Linked DNA regions of Homo sapiens. The protein of the gene in region 1 purifies or fractionates together with the protein of each later gene. This does not show direct contact. Each region holds a gene or a part of one and is shown on either strand. Other genes may lie near its edges.

Region 1 (3,500 bases):
TTGCATTGCCCAAGGCCAAGTGCTTACTGACCATTTTGTCACAGAAATCTATGACCAACATGTGAAACAGTGAATTGGGAATATGAAGTCTGAGTTTCTGGTTGATTTGAATTCTGCTATCAACCTGTTATCTGACTATGACAATACTTTAATACAGAAGGAATCAAGCTTTCTTTTTCTTTTTCATTTGGACATCAGTAAAAATATGAGTGGAAAAAGCCCACTACTCTTATGTCTTCTGTATAACATCATTTGTCTGAAGCATTTGTGTAGTATTGACAGTTGCAGCCACTATGATAGATGGGTGTCAGGGTATTTGCTGTATTGTTAACTGATTCCAGGTCATTCAAGCTAAAAGCCTGGCTTTTAATTAACACGTTTTAAAAGTTAATACTTTAAATGCACTTAATTGGTGCTCCTTAAAAATTATTTTGCTTTACATAAATCATACAGGTTCCACTTTTGGTTCAGAATGCTTATGCTGGTAAAATATCTTTAAATATTACTAAAATATTTCAGTTACTTGACTGGAAATGAGAACATTGTTATTAAACTGGGATAAATTAGACTCCTCTCCCAATGATACCCTTACTTCTTGTGTTGCTATATATGCATATGCTTCAGTTTACTGATTGGAATATGTGAATATACTTCAGTTTACTGACTGGAAAATTATAACTTCAAAAGTTGGTGGTGTTCCATCAACTTTTACTTTTAACTACAAAACTAGTTAATTATACATAAACTTGTTAAGTACCAGAAGTAGTCTAAGAGGATAGTGCAAAAGGTAAATTTGTTCAGAAAGATAATCCTGATTGTGTCACAAGCAGAAAATGTCTGATTACCTGCCAAGGTCACTTCACTCGAAACTCATTTGTGGGTTCAGTGAAGCAATTCCGCATTTTGACATACCAGCATTTTAATGTTATATGTTCCCACCCTTAACTAGTTAAACGTTAAAGATCAGCAGTTTTGCCTTTCAGAACTATGAATGCAGCCTCTTTGCCTCTAATAGTAGCCTACAGTTCTTAACTGTAAAACCATCTAGAAGCACTCCAGTGGGTCACCAGCCTAATTTCTAGCTCTCCATCACCACTGGACACCTGATTACCTTTGGATCCTTACCAAACTAGTTAATGTGGATATTGGTATTTGTCTTATCAGTTTGCAAGTAGATTTGTTTTTAAATGCAATTTCTTTACACATAAAGGAAGCTATATTTGAGAGCTAACTTCTTTAACTCAGTTATCCATGTAAATATAACATAAAGAGAGTTAATAAAATTCAGAAGTAATTTAAGAACTCACTATTTGCTCAAGAATTTTTAACTTCTCCCAACCTACAACCAAGTTTTGTTAAATATCATTGCCAAAGCAAACCAAGCCAAATCAACTAACCAACCAAACAACAACATAAACACATTGATAGCATCCCCAAGTATACCCGGCTGTCTTGCTTTTTATCCAGCTTTGATATCTATGCTTCTACAACTTAGTAGTGGAACACCAGGCTCTCATGTGAACAAATATCTAGATTACCCCATTTATTTTAGGATATATAGGAAGGGCAAAATAAGTAGCTTGTGAATAAGGAGAAATTCATCCTAACGTCAGGTAGTCAAGCACTGGCTTTTGGTTCTGATGTATATGTAGACTATGTAAATATTAAGCATGGTGGCCCATATACATATTACAGATAAACATTAATATGCATTTACATCCATATTGAGATATTATATAAAATAGTGATTAATACCAAGAGTACAAGAATAACTTTCTAGCACAATATGGCAATATCTTTCAAAATTACAATGCACACACATTTTGATTTAATAATTCCAGTTATAAAAATTTACCCTTCAGATGTAGTCACACATGTGTGCAAAGCCATATGTACAAACATGTCGTTTGTAGTCATGTTTGTCACGACAAAAGCTGGAAAACAAAGAATACTCAAAACGCACATACACACACATACACACATTTTAATAACATTTATCATTTCTTGCTATATGCCATGCCCTGTGCCAAATGATAGTCATCTTTTTACTTATATATTCTTATAAAACTTAACATTTTAATGTATGTACATGTACACGTGCATATATATTTAAATAAATATCTCCTTTGGATGCCTGAAGTTTTCATTGTTCTTCTGGTTGGTGTTGTGTAATGTAGGCATAGCCCTAGTGTGTGCCTATGAGAAGCGTAAGCAACGCTTATTATTTTCTGCATGTTTACATGAGTTTAAAGTTCTTCAGCAGCCTCAACTTGCTAAGTGTCCTCAGACACTTCCCTAGCCTTCAACACAGGATTTCACCCACAACACAGGAGACCTGTGAGAGTGGTATGATTCTTCCTAAAAGTTTCCAGGGACCCAGCTCCTTGAGGAAGTCCAGGCAGATCAGACATGTTTCCCAATGCTTTTCAGCTTCCCACTGCAGCAACTCCAGATAAAGTCCCACCAATTCCACAGCCTGAAGACTGTAGCTTCCAATAAGAGCTATGACATTTTGTGATTTGTCAACTTTACTGAACTCTATATTCATTAAACTCTAGATTAATGGAATAGATTCACATTGACATTTCTGGGCCTCTGGGCCCTTAGTGTGCCAACAAGAGAGTAGGAGAATTTCACAAACCCCCAGAAATTGTGTATATTGAATTCTCAAAGAGAATTATAAAACCCCACCAAAAAAATTAGAAATCACTGGTTTAGATTTAAGCCTCTCATATTAGGATATATTAAATATAGCCTTCATAACTCATTTAAATTACTTTTTTCTGAATGATCATACCTGACTACTCTGAAATTCTAAATGCATTAAAAAAACTACGTTGCCACAATTATTTAGGAGAATAAATGGCTTTTAACTGGTCCTGGATTTGATATTTTGGTAAATTAAGCCATTAGAATAACTTCCACTGATATTACACACTACAGACCAGCTGAAGGGGGTTTCAAGAGACCGAAATCCTGACTCAAATTAATTTCTGAAAATGTTTACCAAGTATTCTACTGTGGGATAGCATATTATTTGCCATAATTCCACCAAATGCTCCCAAATGAGATCCTAAAACAATACTCAAGGTTGGAGATGACCATGCAGTGCCTGAGCATGCTTTGTGCAGTGGGATGGGGTGGACCACAGGGTCTTGGGCTGGATGATCTGCTTTCAAGCCCCAGTTTCATTACTTTGTAGTGGTATGACATTAGGCAAGTTACTTCTTCACCTCTCTGACAAGTAGTTTGCCTAGATCTAAAGCAGGAATGATAACGATACCTCCTCTACAGGGTTGTTATAGTGACTTAATGAAATAAACCAAGTGCCTAGTGCATCATTAACTGGTAGCCATTATTATGATATTGTGTCTCAAGCTAAACCTAAGGCCACAAGGTAGGATTCAATAATGATGACCTTAGTGATGGGACGTAATGTGATGAATGTGTTTGTGACCCATGTAGATTAATGGATGGACAGATTTATAATGACTCATTGG
Region 2 (3,500 bases), on another chromosome or scaffold:
GGAGTGTAACAGGCTACAGCACGTGGCATGGCTGCACCCTTTCCCCTGCTGCCCCTCTAGTCAGCCTCTTCCCTAACCCCATCTCCCAGCAGCCACTGCTGACTTTCCCTTCCTCTCATTTTGTATTAACAGGTATTAGAGAGTGGGGAGCGAAAGCAGTGAGTTAACCACCAGGGCAAGCAGGGTTAGGGGCTAATTCCACTAGGCAAATCGCTTTGCTGCCTGATATCGCAATCTGTTTCCCCAACTGATGTGATACAGTCATCTAATTTTTTTTCTTTTTTTCAGATGGAGTTTTGCTCTGTCGCCCAGGCTGGAGTGCAGTGGCGCGATTTCGGCTCACTGCAACCTCCACCTCCCGGATTCAAGCAATTCTCCTGCCTCAGCCTCCTGAGTAGCTGAAACTACAGGTGCCCGCCACCACACCCGGCTAATTTTTGTATTTTTAGTAGAGACGGGGTTTTACCATGTTGGCCAGGATGGTCTTGATTTCCTGAAGTCGTGATCCGCCCACCTCAGCCTCCCAAAGTGCTGGGATTACAGGCATGAGCCACTGCGCCCGGCCCAAGTCATCTAATTTTTAAAGCTAGGAAGGATCTTAGAGTTTTCCTGGTTTGGATGCAGCAACCAAGAACTGGGTTTAACAGTACTGAGGTCAAGAGATTATTTCACGGTTTAACAATGTTCAATATTAGAATGCTATCCCCACAGCAAATCTAAAATATAGTCCTGACCTGGGGCCATTTCAGGGTGTGTATTGTTCGTGACACACTACCTTTTGAGCCCTGTTCCACATATGAAACGTAGCAGTGACTGTTTCAATCTTTTATCATATTTATTTTAAAGAAATGAACAGGGTTTGGAACCAATTCAAATAGAGGATGGAAGTTAGAGAAGCAGCAAGAAAAAGGAAGAAAGGGCTGATTGTGCAGGCACTGTCTGCACAGCTGCCATGTGCCCACGTGGGATGCGTGCGGGGCGGGGCGGCGATGCCCCCGGGGACTGATGGTGGAAGGGCTGGTCTGCTGCCTGCTCTGTGCGTCGATGCCATGTGACAGCTCCCCCCCATGGCCCAGCCTATGTGATCTCTCTGCCCTGCACTGAGTCTGCACTGCATTCACGGTGCCAGCATTTCAGTCAGTGCACCACATGTGCCTGTCTATGGGCCCGGCAGCCACGTGCAGGGCGGGTGGTGAAGGAATGAAGACTGCCTCAGCTCGGGGGAGCCTGGGCATTTATGAAATTTACCTGGCCTAGATTTTCTCTTAGGTCCGTTTCCTGTTCTATGAGTAGTAAAGTTTAAATTCAGGTTGAGATCATCAGTGTGGTCTAATGAAATATATATGTATATATAAAACTTTATTATGCCATATGTGCACATCTACTTTCATAACATTTTGTATTTTATAGAACACAAAATAAATACTACTGAATTACTCAAAAATTAAAAAAAAAATCACCGACTCCTGCATTTTACTATGCTGTCTTCTTTTTTCCATTACTTCTTATGTATGCTACTAATACAGTTTACTGAATAAGTCATAGATAGCTTTCTTAAGACCTTTTCTATACCAGTCACTTGAAACGAGAGCCAACTTCTAAATTCTCCTAAACCCAGAAGAAAGGTCTTACCTTATTCTGTCACTCAGAAGACATGCAAGTTACAGGTGACGAGATGTACCTACTAACGCTATTAAGTAGGTATATCTGCTTATTCTGATTCTTATTTGGATTCTGCTCTTCCTAGAATCCAAATCATTATTTTTAAAAGGTATTTTAGGAAACAAAACCTTGTTGAGCACATTCAACTGGCTCCTAAGAACAGCACACAGGACTTACTTTTTATCTGCTCCACTGGAAAGCTGGGGCAGGGCTTCCAAAGCCTGCTTAAAACTTGACCTGAAACACAAACAGCCACACTGAAGTTGAAGCCTTGCACAGGAGAACTGCTGACAAATTCTTAAGCATCCCTTAATTATTGAGAAGCCAATAAAAGCCAGTGAAGCAAGGAAATATGAGAAAAAGTAAAAGTGAAAAACAATAGAAAAAGTAAAAGTAAAAGCGAAGGTGTAGCTACCAGGTGGAGGCTTTGTAGCAACGGGGTCAGAAAAACTCAAATAGGAAATGAAACGCTACTTGAAAAGCTAAAGGAAAAACATCTTCGAAAGGATGCTAGTGATAGAGGAGAGCTTAATGTGAACATGTTTAATTTAAAAGGAGTCTTTTCAAAACAAGCAGCTGGGGATAATCCAGTTACTCTAAGAAATGGGGATGACCTTCTGAAAGATGACACAGTGGGGTGTTTACAGTATTTGGCCTGCACAGGGCCTGATCTACAGCCAATGTCTTGTAATAATTACAGTCTACTTAAAACTTGTAGAAAAATGGAGAGCTATATAGATGCTTTAAAAATTCAATGTAAGTTCTTTACATGAAGGTAAAAGGAAAGAATTTTAAAAAGAAAACTGTGGGATGTTTAGCTTTTACAAGGAGAAAGTATTAGAAAAATTACCAAACCAAATGAAAAGCATCATAGGGGAGACTGTGGTAATTAACTTGTACCATTCACAAAGGAACAGTTCTTTTATCTCTCTTATGATTGGTTAAGGTGAAGAAATACTGCAATTCTTGACTTTAGGGGGTCGTTGCTTTTATATTGTAAAAACATCCTCAATCTACCAGGAAATACGTTTTTGAGCAATATTCCTCAAATCAGGGGCAAGTGTCACAGCAACAGAGAGAAAGACTGAAAAGTTCCAACAGAGTCATAAAACCCGGTGCTGGGCATCTCCAGCTGCTCCCGGGAGGGCGCGGTGGGGTGTGGGACGGGTGGCTTGGCGCACTCGGGTCCCTTCCCACATTCAGCGGCCTCTTTCCTGGTGTGGAAGCCACTGCCGCTACCTCCACCATCAGCTTGTTTCTTATGAACCTCTTTTTGATTAATTGAAAGAAATGTGATGTAATTGTTTTGACAGTATGACAATAATGATAAACATACTACATATTATTGGCAGGGTACTGAAAATTAAAAAGTGATTTGGCACATTTTCTCATTTAACACCCTCAAAAGCTTGCCTAGAATATTTTAAACTTCCTCTATAGATGAGTACCTTATACTCTAAAACTAAGTCAGCAGGAAGAGGGTAGGCATTTGCATGAAGTGTGCACACATCCAACATGGGCTGGGTGCTTTCCATCCTGTTAGTATGTTGTACAGACAAACGATGGCTGGGAAAAGGTGTGGCTCAACAGTGAACATGGCCCACTAAAAATGGCTGCTGGTGAGCTGTGACCGACGGGAATGAAAGGCTAACTTCATTGGTTAGGAAAAAATGGAAAACGTATTTTCAGTTGCAAAGCTGACAGAATGACAGCAAGCCATGTTATCAGATGCTGGAAATGAGTGAGTAAGCATATTACAGTGTCCTCAAACATTTCATTTGCATACGACTTGGCTTCTCAGGCACATCAACACTATAACCCAGTATTTCCTAGGTAAT

What was found. The genes of interacting proteins can lie anywhere in the genome.
Region 2: the proteins of EDNRB (region 1) and EXOC2 purify together in Homo sapiens (affinity purification with mass spectrometry; 2 studies listed by BioGRID and IntAct, with this or other methods). This does not show direct contact.

What each region holds. Positions count from the first base shown.
Region 1 is NC_000013.11:77,912,332-77,915,831, forward strand, and holds part of EDNRB (endothelin receptor type B isoform 1 precursor), read right to left. Parts: intron 1-3,500. UniProt on the Homo sapiens protein: Non-specific receptor for endothelin 1, 2, and 3. Mediates its action by association with G proteins that activate a phosphatidylinositol-calcium second messenger system.
Region 2 is NC_000006.12:487,140-490,639, forward strand, and holds part of EXOC2 (exocyst complex component 2), read right to left. Parts: intron 1,900-3,500; coding exon 1,840-1,899; intron 1-1,839. UniProt on the Homo sapiens protein: Component of the exocyst complex involved in the docking of exocytic vesicles with fusion sites on the plasma membrane.